Linked DNA regions of Homo sapiens. The protein of the gene in region 2 purifies or fractionates together with the protein of the main gene of each other region. This does not show direct contact. Each region holds a gene or a part of one and is shown on either strand. Other genes may lie near its edges.

Region 1 (4,113 bases), on a different chromosome or scaffold from region 2:
CGCCAGCAGGTCCGCCCGACCGCATTCCCAGCTGGCTTGCTTTGCACAAATGCTGCGTCAGGGCACGCCCCACACCCACTCCTTCCCAGATCGCGACCCTCACGCCTTCGCAGACAGAAAGTGTCCTAAGCACAGGCAGGCTCAGAGCCCGCCTCCGCCTCGGATTCGCTGTGTGGCCCGGAGCCAGTATCTTGGCCTCTCTGGGTCTCAGTTTGCTCATCTCAGTGAATGGGACACAGACACAGTCGCGCTGCGGGCTAACGCTTTATTTGCCAGCCAAGGCCCCGGGCCCGCCTGGGCTTCTGCTCAGAAGATCCTCACGGAGTCCAGCTGCACGTCCCCGCCCACCTCCACCAGGCGCACGCGCGCCAGCGGCAGGCGGTGGCGGAAGTGGTGGTACTGGGCGTCCCCAACCACGGCCTGCAGGGGAGGGTCGGTGGTGAGGATTCCGGAGGCCCGTGCTGGGTGGCCCTGGGGAAATCACTCATCCCCTCTGGGCCTCAGTTTCCTCACTGGGAAAATGGGGCTATTGTTCATTCTAACTCTTGCGTGAGGATCAAACGAGTTGACTGTGTGGCACAGTAAAAAGCGGCTTTTTTAGTGCTGGTAATGGATATTCTCATTTCAGCGACCATTACCCGCTATTAAAGCGCAGAGGAGGGAGGTGAATTCGCGTAAGCTGTGGGTGGTGGAGGATCTGCCGCCACTCCCACCCGCCAATCCTTGCTAGGACGAGTTCCTGGGCGCTGTTTCCAACCCATCCCTCCCCATGCCTCAAACCCCGGACCTCAGGAAGGAATGAACTGGGAGTAGGGTCTGGGATGGCGAGTCTGGGCCACGCCTTCCCGCTAGGACGCCCACCCCTTGGACACTTGGCTGGTGCTCGCCTCGTCCTGACCCTGCTGTCTCTCTGTCCCTCGGACCCAAGTGGGAGTTGTTTAGGCGAGAGAGAGGGTCGAAGGACACCCTTCTCCGCCTTGGCCACGACTTCCCTACCCCCCTCACCCCGCCCCGAACCTCCCTGCCTTCCACCAATAGCCTGGCTTTGCCCAACCCTCTGCTCCAGGGACCTAAGTCTTGGCGTCCACGCCCCTGTCGCAGAGACGCACCTTGAAGCCGTCGTCTGACGCGATGATGAGCACCTCGAAGGGCTGCCCGCGCTGGAAAGGAACGCCCGGCCCGCGCTCCTCGCGGCCCCAGGAGCCTTGCTCCTTGCTGTTGAAGACCACCTCCGACGTGTCCAGCCGGGGGTTGAAATGCAGGGCGGCATCGGAGCCCTGCTCCTCCCCGCACAGCAGGTTTACATGGAACCTGGAAGAGGGGGATGGTGGCCGTCAGGGCTCAGAAACCACCCAGACCAAGAAATGTTGAGGGTGAGGAATACCGATGTCTACAATTTACTTTGAATGAATAAGTAAATGAAATGTTGGCTGGGTGCAGTGGCTCACCCTGTAATCCCAGCACTCTGGGAGGTGGAGAAGGGAGGATCGCTTGGGCCCGGAAGTTAAAGACCAGCCTGGGCAACATAGCGAGACCCCACCTTACAAAAAAACGAAAGAACAAACAAAACATAAACCGCCCAGACCAAAGTGAAGGTCTTATGGGCTGGCACTCCCCATTCCCAGAGTACCCCCAAATTAACAGGGACCTGAAGACAGGCACACACCGCAGAAGGAGAGGTGGGCGACTAATGACCAGGGAGCTTAGATTCCCAAGGCAGCCAAAATATCATGAGGCCCTTGGCAGAAACCTACCCAGACCAAACTCACTACGCTTAGGGCAGGGTGCCCTCATTTCCAAAGAGCCTGGGAGCTGCCCAGGAGGTCTGGGTGATAGCCAGGGTGCTCCTGATGCTCAGGGAACCCTCAGCTTCTACAGGACAAAGAATAATACCAGGAACCCCAGTATTTCCAGGGTACCTCAGAATCCAGAAGGCCCGAAGTTCCTTAGCCAGGAAGTCAAAGGATGGCTTGGCAAGGACTCCCAGGGTCCAGGGTGTCTCCAGGACTTGGAGTATTTCCAGAGTTCCCTGGGACTCAGACATGGAAGTCATAGGACTATATCTAGGAACCCTGAGATTACCCAGGGACCTCAAATGCTTAGGGAAACTTAGGGACCCCAGCCACAAAGGCACGGGGGCAAATACGAATACATCAGATTTGAGGTCAGAAATGGCCTCGGACTCCTAGCCTGGTGGATACAGGTGGCCTCGGGCCCCTACTTCTGGACTGCAAAAATTGGGAGTCAGCTGATCCTGAGACCTGTACCCTTTACCCCTAGGGCCTGGGGCCTCACCTGCTGGCATTGGGAGGAACCAAGCCGCGAATTCTCAGCACCGTGCCAGGGCGGATGCCCTCGGGCAGTGAGGACTTGTGGGGGACGTTCTGCAAGAGTGGGGTGCAGGGGCCACTGTGAGCCGGTGAGACCGAAGGAGGGAGGCAGAAGGTGGGTCACCCCTCAGAGGAGCCGACCAGGGCTGAGACTGGCAGAAATCAGTGGAAGAGGAAAGGGTGGCGGAGAGGCAGGAAAGAGACCAGAAACAGACAGGGAAACAGATGGGGAGAGCAACAAAGACAAACAGAAAGATCCTCAAAGAGGGCCCCAGAGGAAGCCACAAAGAGGTAGAGGGGACAGTCGGGATGGGGGTTACCCGGAGGCCACAGCCCAGGCCAGTCCGTGGCACACTCACTGCCCACTTGCTCCTTTGAAAGAGGAGCCCCCAGCCCCCTCCCTGCTTGGCCCCGCCCCGGGCCCCTGGAGCACTCACGGACATGGCTGGGACCGGGTTGGGCAGCCGTGGTGGTGGGGCCTGCTGGGGACCTTAAATAAAAGCAGGGCGGGGCTGGCCCTGATGACTCACCCCACCCCTTCCCACCCACCACCCACACCTGGCACGGACCCTGGCCCTGGGGCAAGCCTGGCGAAGTGGGAGTGGCGCCTCTTCTTGGGGGCCCTGATCCCCCCATCACCCAGAGCCCGGGTGCACTGCCCCTCTCCTAGGAGCTGATAATAAGAGCCACCGCCCCTCCACCCCTGTCTTCCCACTGCCTGGCACACAGGAGAGTCTCTCATGCTCATTTTATCCACAGACATGTTGGGTCCTGAGAAGCCAAGCCCAGCGGGAACTCTAGACCCTTCTCTCCAGCTGAGAACCTCCTGCCTAGACTGGAAATGTCTGCGCTGAAATCCCTGCTTCTAAGTCTCCAGTGGAACAGCAGCCACAACAACGACGATAGTGCCAGACAGGGGGACTTCACAGGGTCGGAGGGCGGCCTGGTTGGCTCAGTGCTGCACCCCTGGGTCCTGGAGTGTGCCGGGTTCATGGGAAGTCCTCAGTCAGGAGGGGTGAAAGGAGGGGATCCACTAGGACTACGCTTGTCATTTCCCAGGCCCTTGGGCTGCCCAGGATATGCAGGAAATCACTGATTGGGACCCCACCATTCCAACAGAGAGAAGCATGGGTCACCCCCATTGTACAGAGAAGGAGGCTGAGGCTGGGATGGGAAGTGATTTTCCACAAGCCGGGCAGGACCCATTGCCCCAACCTCTGCCTTTCCTCACCTCTGGGCGTGCCTCTCCTGTGGGTTCTGTCTCTGGGGCTGGCTGTCTGGCTCTGTTTGTCTCTGTCTATAACTGTCTACCGCGTATTCCTGTCCCACTTCTCTCCTTCAAGTCTCTCTTGTTCCTCCTTCCAGGACTGTTACCATCTTCCCACCAATTTTGCAGGTCAGGATGAGGTGGGTTTTAGGGTGGTGGGTGGCCTAGCATTCCATCACCACCTAGATCAAAAGCAGAGCAAGGTGGGGACCCTCCCGCCAGCCCCAATATAGCCCGCTTGGGCCCAAGACTCTAGAAGAGAATCCAGGGTTGGGGAAGTAGACTGGGGGAGGCGGGGGGGGGGGGGGGGGCGGGCAGGACTGAAATCTGTTTCTGAAAGGCAGGGATGGTGTGGGAGCTGAACAGAAACCACTCCTGGCTGGGCATGGTAGCTCACGCCTGTAATCCCAGCACTTTGGGAGGCCAAGGTAGGTGGATCACTTGAGGTCAGGAGTTCAAGACCAGCCTGGCCAACATGGTGAAACCCCTTCTCTATAGAAAATACAAAAAATTGGC
Region 2 (5,419 bases):
TAAGTCCAACTTCTTAGTCCACAGACTTCCCACCACATTGTGCTCTCCTCAAGCTGAAAAGCTGGAAAATAAGTCTGAGTACTGACAAAAAATAGCCAAGAAGGATAACAGCTTTTTTTTTTTTTAAATAAGCTTTCCATTTCTCAGATGAAGTGTTAATAAAAAAAAATCTTTCAAAACAGGTATTTCTGGCCAAAAAGATTAGCTTGATTTAAATTACTGCTTTTATTTAAAACAATACGTCTATTTCTTCCAGTAATCTTACTCTAACAATTTAAATGTTTGCCTCATTCCTTAAATCCTATCTCTCTCTTTTGCTCTTGCTCTTGCTTTGTCTCATTTCTTCAAATATAACTATGTAAACATTTGATACAATAATTTCTTTCAAATCCTTTATAACCTTATCACTTATCCTCATTTTCAATTGATATCAATTATATATTTCTATTCCCTTCTCCAAGGGAAATTTCTCACCTATGGTTAGAAATGTACATGATAGGAACTCCAGGAATCTTACGGATTCTTCTTTTCAGGTCCCGGTCAACTGTGGCCACAATGTAACACTTATGCTGTAAGAGACATGGAGTGATGTTCACACTGAGGTCACTGAGCACGCTTAGTGAATACTGGATAATGGCACAACGACTGACCAGTCTGAGAATCGTTCATTTTCACAGTAAGTAGCGAAGGGCAGGCTATAACAATTTGTTGAGTACCTACTATGATCTAGGAGCTCCTAATCTTGTTATATAAAATAAACAAGTTGCCTGGGCTGAATGCAGCATTTAGAATCTTGAGGAGGAGAAGGTAGAAAACTTTTCACAAGCTGCAAACTGTTTTCTGCTCATAAATGAAAGGGACTTTCACACTTGGGGCAGACAATTCTTTAGTTTTGGGAAAATGCTCCGAGGAACTCCATGGAGATAAAAAGTGCCTTAATTTGGAGGCCATAGCTCCCTCCTTTCCCTAGATCTTGGGGCTTGGGTGTGCTCTGGGCCTACTGATGTTAGAGGTAAGCTATCCCCGAAACAGGAAGCCTAAGTAGGATATTCAGGGCCTGAAACTAGAGCCTAGCAGTTATAAAAGCAGTAATATTTAGCTGTCAGGTGAAAGCTATTTTATAGGAAGCTTCACATCTGTCACGTCTGACTCTCCTACTGAGTTTTATAAAAAGTGGCAGAGTGGTGTCAGCTGTGCTGTGGGAAATACTGGCCCCACCCACCCGCCCCATGGGGTGAAGTGGCTAAAAGGATGGCTCTGTGGTCAGCAGAGCAGATGAAGATTATCATCAGCAGAGAGGCCCTTATAAAAGCACTCAGTAGCAGAAGTCCTTGTGGTGCTTAATGAAGGAATTAAAAACCTACTTATTCTAGGGTATGTGTGAAACAGCATCTTGGGAGACTCTCAGATTTAACTAAGAAGCACTTTTGGATTAGGCATCGTGAAGAGGAACAAAATTCCTACATCAAAAATAAATGGGTTCTACATTAACTCACTTAAAATCATTTTACAGAGATTTGTGAGATAAAGAATCAGTTAAATGTCCCAAATCACACAGCCAGTAAATGCAGGTGCTGAGACGTGAAACCCATGTCTCCTCCCCAAGCCTGTGCTCTTTCCATTATGGTTAGAGTGTACATTTTCAATCCACTTTCTCAAGTAAATGAAGACACCTATGCTTCTTATGAAGGAATGCTATGCAATTTTTTTTTAATTTAACCATAATGTATATTCCTAGATGTTTTACTGACCATGAACATTCAGGAGATAATAGTTTACATTTTTTTTTTTTAAGCACAAAGTAAACAGTTATGAACTGATAATACCTGAGTTACTCTCTGTACTAAGCAGTCATCTGCATAGGTTCCTTTGTGTGTACATGGTAATCGTTCAAATCTTGGATCCTTGGCAATCCTGTAGGTGGATTAAAGAAAACATTCAATCAGCTGGATAACTTTCTGAGTCTTAATTAATGCAATAAAAGTAACATGATCTATGCAGAGATTTTAAGGCACTGTTCTCCTCCTGAACTTTATCCTCTAACTGGAAAGACAATTCACGGGGCAGGGAATGAAGGCTGACAGCTAGTGTGCTTTGGGTCATTTAATCATTACAAAACTTTGAGTTATTATATATCTATTCTACAGATGAGGAAGTAGGCTTAGAGAGATTAAATTACTTCATTCAAAGCTATACAGCTGGGAAAAGCCAGGATTCAAAAACAAAACCCATTTTAACCTAACCATTTCACTTTTAAGAAGTTGTCTTAAACACAATGAACAAGAATATAGGCAGAAGGATGATCACTCAACACAGTTTATAGTAAGTGAAGAAAATAAAAATATCCTTTAGAAAGGTAAAAGTTAAACCCATTTTGGTGCCCTTATCCTATTAATAAAAAGTGAGGTAGAGCTGTACGTACCAATGTGGAAGGACCTACACTAAACTGTTGAATAAACAAAGCAGGGCATATGCATATATATATATATAATATGATTTAATTAATAAAATACAAATCCTTCTTTCCAATACTCTTTATTTAGATTTGCATTTGCACAGAAAAAGGTCTGAAAAAATATATTAACCTTTGTCAGTTGTCACTCTTGGGGTATGAGAATGGACAAAGTATGAATGTAGAGGCAGACTTTTACCTTTTACTATATGTATATGCTTGTATTGTTTGCCATAAAACACTCAAACATGTATTATTTTCATACATATTTGAAAAAGAAAAACCCCAACTCTGTGTGATTCTGAGAGCCATGCTCTTTCTATTAACAGTGATGATGAGTCACTGAAATGAAGAAAAATACAAGACAGCACATATGTACCAAGTGCAACACAAATACTCCTCCATATTGCAGTAGTTCAGCGCTAGGTCAATGTGGGTTGGGAATATTTAGAAAAAAATGACATGGGGTGAAATAAGATTAAAGAATGTGCCAAGCAATGTGAGGGTACCAAATAGGACACCAGCCAACTGTAAAATGGTTTCTTGGTATTTGGGGAAGAGTAAACACATCTTTCTGGCTGGGGGCAGAGTGTTTGTGGAGAGAAGAATGAAATGGGGCTAGAAAGAGTCTCCAATGCCAGGCTGACGAGTGTGATGACACAGGTAATGAGGAGTCATTAAAGATTTCTGGGGGACAAAGTGATAAGAACAAAGCTCTGTCTTGGAAAAACTAAGCAGGCTGTGCTGGGGAGGATACACTAGAGGGAGGATGGACTGGTTGCTGACAAACTAGGTGGGCAACAGTCTAGGACTATGCTCTTTCAGTTATCTCTTTACTCCTGAAATCACTTGTCTCCTCTCTACTAGCTCTTTCCTAGAAACATACTAACATGCTGTCATATATTCTCTGCCTTAAGACAAAAAAATCTTTTTACCTATACCCCCCTCCAGCTAACACCCCATTTCTGCATCTCTTGACAGCCAAACTTAGTGTTTCCACTTGGTGCCTCTATTTTTTCCCCTCTCATTCTTTATTTTTATTGTTTTAAAAATTACCAGGCTGGGTGTGGAGGATCATGACTACAATCCCAGCACTTTAGGAGGCCAAAGCAGGAAGATCACTTGAGGCCAGGAGTTTGAGACCAGCTGGGCAACATAGTGAGACCCTATCTCTACTAAATTTTTTTTTTTTTTGGAGATGGGGTCTCATTCTGTCACCCAGACTGGAGTGCATTGGCACAATCCCAGCTCACTGCAACCTCTGCTCCCGGGTTCAAGCGATTCTCCTGCTTCAGCCTCCTGAGTAGCTGGGATTACAGGCATGCGCCACCATGCCCAGCTAATTTTGTATTTTTAGGAGAGACGGGGTTTCACCATGTTAGCCAGGCTGGTCTAGAACTCCCGACCTCAGATGATCTGCCTACCTCAGCCTCCCAAAGTGCTAGGATTACAGGCGTTAGCCACTGCACCCAGCCTTTTTGAGATGGAGTCTTGCTCTGTTGCCTAGGCTGGATGCAGTGGCATGATCTTGGCTCATTGCAGCCTCTGCCTCCCAGCCTCAAGCAATTCTCCTGCCTCAGCATCCCTAGTAGCTGGGATTATAGGTGCCTGCCACCACCCCCAGCTAATTTTTGTATTTTTAGCAGAGATGAGGTTTCACCACATTGGTCAGACTGGTCTTGAACTCCTAGCCTCAGGTGATCTGCCCGCCACAGCCTTCCTAAGTGCCAGGATTACAGACGTGAACCACCATGCCCAGTCTCTACCAAAAAAATTTTTTTTTAAAATTAGCCATGCAAAAGAAAAAAAATAATCAGACATGCATAGTGGTATGCACCTGTAGTCCCAGCTACTTGGGAGGCCAAAGCAGGAGGATCACTTGAGCCGGAGAGGTCAAGGCTGCAGTGAGCTGTGATAGCATCACTGCACTCCAGCCTGGGCGACAGAGTGAGAATCTGTCTTTAAAAAAAAAAAAAAAAAAAAAAAGCATATACACATATCTATAAACAATGCAGTATTGGTTTGCATGTTTTTAGACTTTAGATAAATGGTATACTCCACATATGTTCTTGCTTTTTCATAGACATCTACAGAACTCTCCACCCCAAATCAACAGAATATACATTTTTTTCAGCACCACACCACACCTATTCCAAAATTGACCACATACTTGGAAGTAAAGCTCTCCTCAGCAAATATAAAAGAACAGAAATTATAACAAACTGTCTCTCAGACCACAGTGCAATCAAACTAGAACTCAGGATTAAGAATCTCACTCAAAACCGCACAACTACATGGAAACTGAACAACCTGCTCCTGAATGACTACTGGGTACATAACGAAATGAAGGCAGAAATAAATATGTTCTTTGAAACCAACGAGAACAAAGACACAACATACCAGAATCTCTGGGACGCATTCAAAGCAGTGTGTAGAGGGAAATTTATAGCACTAAATGCCCACAAGAGAAAGCAGGAAAGATCGAAAATTGACACCCTAACATCACAATTAAAAGAACTAGAAAAACAAGAGCAAACGCATTCAAAAGCTAGCAGAAGTCAAGAAATAACTAAAATCAGAGCAGGACTGAAGGAAATAGAGACACAAAAAACCCTTCAAAAAATTAATGAATCCAGGAGCTGGTTTTTTGAAACGATCAACAAAACTGATAAACCGCTACCAAGACTAATAAAGAAAAAAAGACAGAAGAATCAAATAGACGCAATAAAAAATGATAAAGGGGATATCATCACCGATCCCACAGAAATACAAACTACCATCAGAGAATACTACAAACACCTCTACGCAAATAAACTAGAAAATCTAGAAGAAATGGATAAATTCCTCGACACATACACTCTCCCAAGACTAAACCAGGAAGAAGTTGAATCTCTGAATAGACCAATAACAGGAGCTGAAATTGTGGCAATAATCAATAGCTTACCAACCAAAAAGAGTCCAGGACCA
Region 3 (3,342 bases), on a different chromosome or scaffold from region 2:
TAAGAAGCAGTTTGTTTATAGTTAGTACTCGCTCTGCAGTATTCCAAGCATCAAAATATATTATTTTGATACTCTATTAGGTGGGTTTTATTAGTGTCATTTTATGCAAAAGGACACCACCAGGTTAGCAGTCTTCCCAACGTTACAATGCTGGTAAGCTTGTAAAAATTCTGCCTCCACAGTCAAAACTACTGACAAATACAAGACTCTTAACAAATTAATAGGTCAATGTGGTTTTGAAGTAGGAGGTGGGACCTGACTCTGGAGGCAGGTTTTAGACACCAGGCCAAATTGAGGGCTAGCTAAAATGGGGACCAGGGACAGGATGGAAGCAGTGTACCATGTCAGTTTACCATTGTGATGGCAACACCTTGGAGTTACCACCTCTTTCTGTGGCAATGACCTGATGACCCAAAAGTTATTCCCCGTTCCCTAGAAATTTCTGCGTAAACTGCCCCTTAATCTACATGTAATTAAAAGTAGGTATAAATATGACCCCCAAACTGCCCTGAGCTGTGCCTCTCAGCACAGTGCCTGGGGTAGCCCTTCTCTGCAGGAGGAATCATGGAGCTGTAATACTGCCACTTCAATAAAGCTGTTTTCTTCTACCCTACCTCCAGCTCACCCTTGAATACTTTCCTGGGTGAAGCCAAGAACCCTTGAAGGCTAAGCCCCACTTTGGAGCTTGCCTGCCTTGCATCAGTTTCATCTTCAATGTATTCATTTAATATATACATTCAATATATTTCCCAAGCTATTAAAATTTTTGGTTAGTATTGGGGTATAGTAATGTTGTGATGTATATGATAAAACTAGTATTTGATCATAGCATGATGAAACAGACAATTCTCTCCAATTCTTACAAAAGCTGGTAAAACAATCTGCCAAAATAGCTGCTTGGCATTTTGGCAAAATAACTGATTGACTTACAGCCATTTAGCACAATGTCTAAAGAGAAAAACAATTCATGCCATTCTTTAAAGAAGGCAAAACTTCCATGTGTCTCTTTAATTTTGCTCTCCATTTTTACTTGAACTTTTGATTTAAATCATCTTTCTCTGCTTCCTTTGTGTCAGTGGTCTGTCAATATTTTAGAACAGTATTTCACAAATCCACAATGAAAATGAAGAACTAAAAGGAAATCAATTATTTTCAGATAAACAAATAAATATATATTTTTTGAAATCCCATAGCACTTAGTTTATGTGCATTTTCCATTGTGGTAATTAATAAAGCAAGACACCAAACTATTTCTTGAAACAATGTCTTAAACATAAGAGTTAAATGAAAATCCTTAAAAAAATAAGTTATAAAATTTTTAAACATCCGATTGAGGAATTCTGGAGTTAGACTAAGGATCAGAAGAAGAAGCAACCCTGGCTTTACCGCTACCAGTGGGATCTTAGGGGAGCCGGCTAATCCCCTGGGAACAGGATGCTCCAACCACAAATTGGTAAGATGGATAGGAGCTCTCTTAGGACATTTTCAATCCTAACAGATCATAAATGAATGAAATACTTACACAATTCTGAATTCATAATCATCTCTGTTTCTTAGAAATACATTTATATGTTATTATTCAGCAATTGTTTACTTAAGGCCTACAACTCTACCTGGAAATTCAGAAGAATGAAGGATTTTCACTGTCAGCAAAAAACTGTGCAAATTTTTGTGGGGGCATAGGATAAGTGTGACATACTGGACCTACCCAAAAATAATTAGAGCCTGAGAGGAAAAGCAAAACAAACTAACAAAAATCAGTTCCATAATTGTTTAAGGCCATATATGGCTAACACTAATGTGACTTGTGAAGCTGAAAAAGCAGATGAGGAGATGAGAAGAAGAAAAGATCAGGAAGTAATTGGGAGTCACTTCCAGGAAAGAGTAAGACTTTGGCTGCAATTTAAACTGCAACTTAAATCCTGTAGTTGAGGCATCCTCAGAAACAAAGTCTAGAGGCAGCAATGAGTGTTTAAGGAGCTCCAAGGGCCAGTGGTAGCCAAGCACAGTCAACTGGATTACTGAGAACTCAGAAGTCAAGGTAAAGAATGAGACCTTCTCCTGAGGACAGTAGGAGGTCACTGACAGTTTTTAGTGTGGGAATAGCATAATAAGTGTACTGCATCACCTCTTTAATTTCACCTCCTTCCCTTGGCCCTCCACACTGCAGTCAGACCAGACTCTATTCTTCTCCTTAGGGTTACCTCTGGACCTTTGCATATTCTGTGCACTCTGTCTGGAAATCTCCCCCCAGGCATGCACCCTCCACCTGGCCAGCTCCAGCCTGTCTTCCCAATTACAATTTAATCATTTTTAAATCCAGTCAGATGCCTTTCCTGTGTACTCCCACATAGCACCTGTACTTCTCAATGAAAGCACTGACTACTACTCTATAGCAATTGCCAACATGACTGAATCCCTCCTCTATAGGCTCTATGGTGGCAGGATTTACCATTTTTATCTTTATCTCCACATATAGTTTCTGGAATATGGTGTGTGGTGGATAAATATTTGTTGACTAAGTGAATGAACTTAATAGAACTTAATGAATGAATGAATTCAATGAATAAATGACTTAATAAACTAAATTACAATGAATAAATGATTCAATTAAATAATTTATTCATTGTAAAATATACAGAGGGAGGCAGGAGCCTGTGAAACAATTAAAAGCATGAGTTAAAATGGTAGACGTGACTTAGATAATCAAGGAGGGATGAAGCAGAGACCAAAAAAACTTGACAATGGATTGGCTTTGAATGGTGAAAGAGAAGAAAGAGTGAAAATAATTTTATGATTCTTCCCTCCTCCACTGCCTGTATTCTTTATAGCTCACACCATTTACTAAGCTCAGGGTCAAGCCTTGTTTTCTTTTTGTCCACAGTGGGCATAGACTCACAATTATTTCAATGCTGATATTTCCTATTTTGAAAGCTTCTGCCTCCTTTCATATTCTATCCTCAAGCAATATCCAAAATCAAATATTTAAGTACTAAACATATGTCTTCTATTAGTAGGCCTCAATTATTTCTTCTCAGTTAAAACACCACTGAGCTAATCAGGAATAAATTCACATCCACCAAAGTAACTGCAGTTGGACAAATTGTAAAGGGGTGAGGGCTAACTAAGTTCATGGATGGAAAAAGATAGATCAGAGTTTTCTAACTGGAAAGAAGTAAATAAAATATTTTCTTGGATTTACCTTTGGTTTGAGTCTTGACCCAGGAATTAATCTTTTTTCTAGCTTCTTCTGCACATTCTAGGAAGTCTACTGCCTGGGGTTCTGAGGAGTAATATTTCTGACAGAGTCGAATATATTCCTTTAAAGCAAGAAAATGACAA
Region 4 (3,500 bases), on a different chromosome or scaffold from region 2:
GGCAGGACACAGCAGGCTCTTGGAGTTCCCATGGACTGGGAACTCTGTGCTGCTAGAATGGTCCTTTCTCACCTCTGGGATGAGTCCTACCCTGTCGGGGGAGGAGCATTTGGGGTGACAGCTAGGGATGCACCTTGTGTCTGTTCAGCTCTTGGCAATTTTTCCTGTATAGGAAGTAATATAACATGGGAAGGTTTAAAAGTCGCTGGGCTCTCCTTCAACACTAGGAGAGGGAAGGAAGGCAGTGTTGATTACTGAGCATCTAGTATGTGCCAGGACTTTTCTCCTTTAACCAGCAAAAGCCTCCTGTGGAGGTAAGTGGCATTATCCCTCCGACTTCACAGGTGTGAAAACCGAGGCCTATAAAGATTACACAGCTTGCCTGAGTTCTCACAGTTGGAAAGCGGTAAGGCCAAGCTTCAACAACAGGACTCAGATCCTATTCTGTGCTTCAAGAGGCGCACCTAGAGGTGGTGGCACTAGGCTGTCCTGTGTGTCTTCTGTGGCATCGTCCTTCCCCTTCACTCCTGCTGGCCTAAGCCCTCCCATGCTCCCTTCACCTTGCAGATGGCACTTTGGCAGTTCCATCTCTTTCCTTTTGCCCCCGCTTCCCTCCCAGCACCCTCCCCATTGTCCTCTGAGGCCCCAGCTTTCTCTCTCCCTCTCTCCCTCTTCCCTCAGAAAGTGGTTGAAGGCCCTGATGGCTGACAGGGCCTCTGATCCCCACAGTCCCGCCCTGCCCACACCTCCCTCCTGACTTCCTACTCTCCGCTTCATTCCTCCCTGCCCAGGCCTGTCCCTAAATGACTCCTTTGTTCCCTTCTCCCACACCTGTCTGTTTGCCTCTTGCTCTCTGATGCCAGGAACGGGCCCTGCATGGGCCACCTAACCTTGAAATCCTTCAGCCTTGGGTGAGCAGAGGTTTTCCCGAGAGCAGATGGGTGGTGCAGCAGCTAGCAGTGCCTCAACCTGGACGTGGTCTTCAGGTGGAGACACACCTGAGCACCCACCCGGATAGGTGTACCTGCACTGGCTCCAGGGAGGAGAGGACTGGCCATGATCTTCCCCTGGCCTGAATTCACTACATGGGCCATCGGCTGTGACATTTGCCAAATGAGCCAGTTAATTGCCAAATTTGTACTCTCAGACAAATGGTAATTATCTGGATAAGAATCTGAAATGCTGGATAGATTTCCCCATTTCCACTCGGACGTAAAACAGCCCAGGATCAGTTAGTCTGTTTGACTGAGATTTACTGTTCCTTTTGCCTCCTCACAGCCTCAGGTCAGGGGAGGGGTGAGATGGGGCAAGGAAGGTATCACCCTGGCCATCTCCAGCCAAGAGTGGGGAAGAAGACAGAATGCCAGGCCCACAGAGAGTTAGCACCCCCCTCAGTCTCCTCCTTCACCTTGCAGATGGGGACGCAGGCACAGTGGGAACCTCCCCTTCCTGGGCCTTGGTTTCCTTGTGGTGAAATTGGACTAGATCTCTGATTCCCAACCCAGCTACACATTAGAATTCTCTAGGGAGACCTTTAAAATACCTCCTGGGCTAAGGCCTGGGAATCTGTGTTTCAACAATTCACCAGCTGATTCTGGTCTGGGGATTGCTGTTTGGGAGCCACTGGACTCGGTGATCTCAAGAAGACCCTTCCAATCCTACAGGAACAAAAAGGCTTAAAATAGCGGAGAGGAATCCCAGCTCTGCCACTCTTGAGTGCTGTAACTTGTGTAAGTCTCTTGACGACTTTGACCTTGTTTCTTCATCTACAAGTAGGACATGCTGGGCCCGGCACTGGCACTCAGGTGTGTGCCACAGACACTGGGTTGCCTCCTGCCTGCCTGTCACTTTGCTCCCCTGCTTCCTGTCTCCAAGCTTCTTTTATTTTGTTATTTCCCCCTTAGCACCCAGAGAGGCCCCCCTACCTCCTTTCTCACCCACCCTGTCCCAGGGCAAGCATTCTCCCCCAAAGTCACCAAGGTCTCCAGGGAAAGTGGGCCCAGCCCCTCCAGGGCACCCTGGCCTTTAGCCTGGCTCCCCTTCCCGAATCCCAAAGAGCTTTCCTGGGCAGACCAGCGCTGCTCAGAAAAGCAAGGACCAGCGGCTGCCCATGCCCAGCAGCCAGTGGCTCAGCTTTTGTGTTAGAATTGGGAATGAGACGAGAAACAAAGCCACAGATGTGGTGAGAGAACTGAACTGAACCAAATGGTGGGGTTGAGAGAGTGGAGGAGGTGTGAGGCTAAGCCTCTCCAAAGCAATGCTCCTAGCTGAGTGACCTCCACACACGCCTCGTCATGCTGCCACCCCAGAGCAGGCCAGATCCATGACAGTGCAGGGCCCCCCAAGAGCAGCCAGCCGTCCACCCAGGAGGTCTTAACATCCTGGCCTGCTGAAGCTTGAGATAGGCAGAAGGAAGGGCCATAAGACACAGAAAGGGATGTATGTGTACATTTCAATCTCACCCACCTAACCTAGCCTGGGAAGTGTTCAGTGGCAGAGGGGAAGACAGGAGGACATGTATGAGGCCTATTGTGACATTTGGGGTGGCACTGGAAACATGCTGACCCAGGGACCACCAGAGGAAGGTGCTGTCATGTTGCCGCACCAAGCGATCTTTTTCTAACAGAGACTCTGCTCAGAGTCTGTAGGTAGAGCTGAGGCCCAGAAGACAGGCACCCACAGCCCTGGGTGTCATCGTAGCCTCACACCACCAACCGAGGCAGGTCTGAGGCTGTATCACCTGGGCCTTCACCACTGGCCTGCGGAACGGGTTCTGAACAAAGCCACTTGCAAACAGCTATGCGTGGGCTGATGTTTGGGTCTGCAGGAGATGCCTCAAAAGGATGCCAGGACTGGCATGCTCATTCACTTTGGCCCATCTACCCACTAACCCTGCTCTGTGCCAATGTCCCCCACCTGTGACATTCCAGCAGAGCCAGGCCGAGACAGCCCGTGTGCCCAGCTCAGTCTCCTGGCTTCCTGGCTCCACTTCTCCCCGCCTAGCCCTATGCTGCAGGTGCACATGTGTGTGCACACACACGGAGGCTACCTGAAGCTCCCACCATCACAGTCACTTTAGAGGACCAGGCATTTTCTCCTAAAACACACATATCCCAATCCCATCCCCTTGGGGCCCTTTCCCTGAGGCACTCTCAAACACTGGAAGAGGGCTTAGGGGGCTTCCTCCTCAAACAAGGACCTTGGACAGGCCCCTTCCTTCCTCTGTGCCTGTGTCCCTATCTGCAAGGTGAGGGAGGACACTGAGGGGGTGGCTAATACTCTGTTGGCCCGGCATTCTGTCTACTACGGTTTGACGTTAACTTCTAGCCGCTCTGTGTAACTAGACGGGCGCTCCCCAGTCCTGTTTGTGTGTATGAGCCCTGCCTCCTGACCCACATCATGAGCCCTCCCTCAAGGAAGAACTGTGAGTCCCTCAGCGGCCCCCATGCCAGAACCCGAACTCTGAACTCTGAGCTCCTGGCACATCCACATAGGGCTGC

The links. Proteins that work in one complex are often made in the same cells at the same time.
Region 1: the proteins of FCF1 (region 2) and LGALS7B purify together in Homo sapiens (affinity purification with mass spectrometry, with the first as the bait; 2 studies listed by BioGRID). This does not show direct contact.
Region 3: the proteins of FCF1 (region 2) and SERPINB2 purify together in Homo sapiens (affinity purification with mass spectrometry; 2 studies listed by BioGRID and IntAct, with this or other methods). This does not show direct contact.
Region 4: the proteins of FCF1 (region 2) and TRIM29 purify together in Homo sapiens (affinity purification with mass spectrometry; 2 studies listed by BioGRID and IntAct, with this or other methods). This does not show direct contact.

Annotation. Positions count from the first base shown.
Region 1 is NC_000019.10:38,787,887-38,791,999, reverse strand, and holds LGALS7B (galectin-7), read right to left. Parts: upstream 2,801-4,113; 5' UTR 2,774-2,800; coding exon 2,768-2,773; intron 2,385-2,767; coding exon 2,296-2,384; intron 1,312-2,295; coding exon 1,110-1,311; intron 421-1,109; coding exon 307-420; 3' UTR 246-306; downstream 1-245. UniProt on the Homo sapiens protein: Could be involved in cell-cell and/or cell-matrix interactions necessary for normal growth control. Pro-apoptotic protein that functions intracellularly upstream of JNK activation and cytochrome c release.
Region 2 is NC_000014.9:74,729,226-74,734,644, reverse strand, and holds part of FCF1 (rRNA-processing protein FCF1 homolog), read right to left. Parts: intron 1,915-5,419; coding exon 1,827-1,914; intron 570-1,826; coding exon 475-569; intron 1-474. UniProt on the Homo sapiens protein: Part of the small subunit (SSU) processome, first precursor of the small eukaryotic ribosomal subunit.
Region 3 is NC_000018.10:63,897,705-63,901,046, reverse strand, and holds part of SERPINB2 (plasminogen activator inhibitor 2), read right to left. Parts: intron 3,321-3,342; coding exon 3,203-3,320; intron 1-3,202. UniProt on the Homo sapiens protein: Inhibits urokinase-type plasminogen activator. The monocyte derived PAI-2 is distinct from the endothelial cell-derived PAI-1.
Region 4 is NC_000011.10:120,131,614-120,135,113, forward strand, and holds part of TRIM29 (tripartite motif-containing protein 29), read right to left. Parts: intron 1-3,500.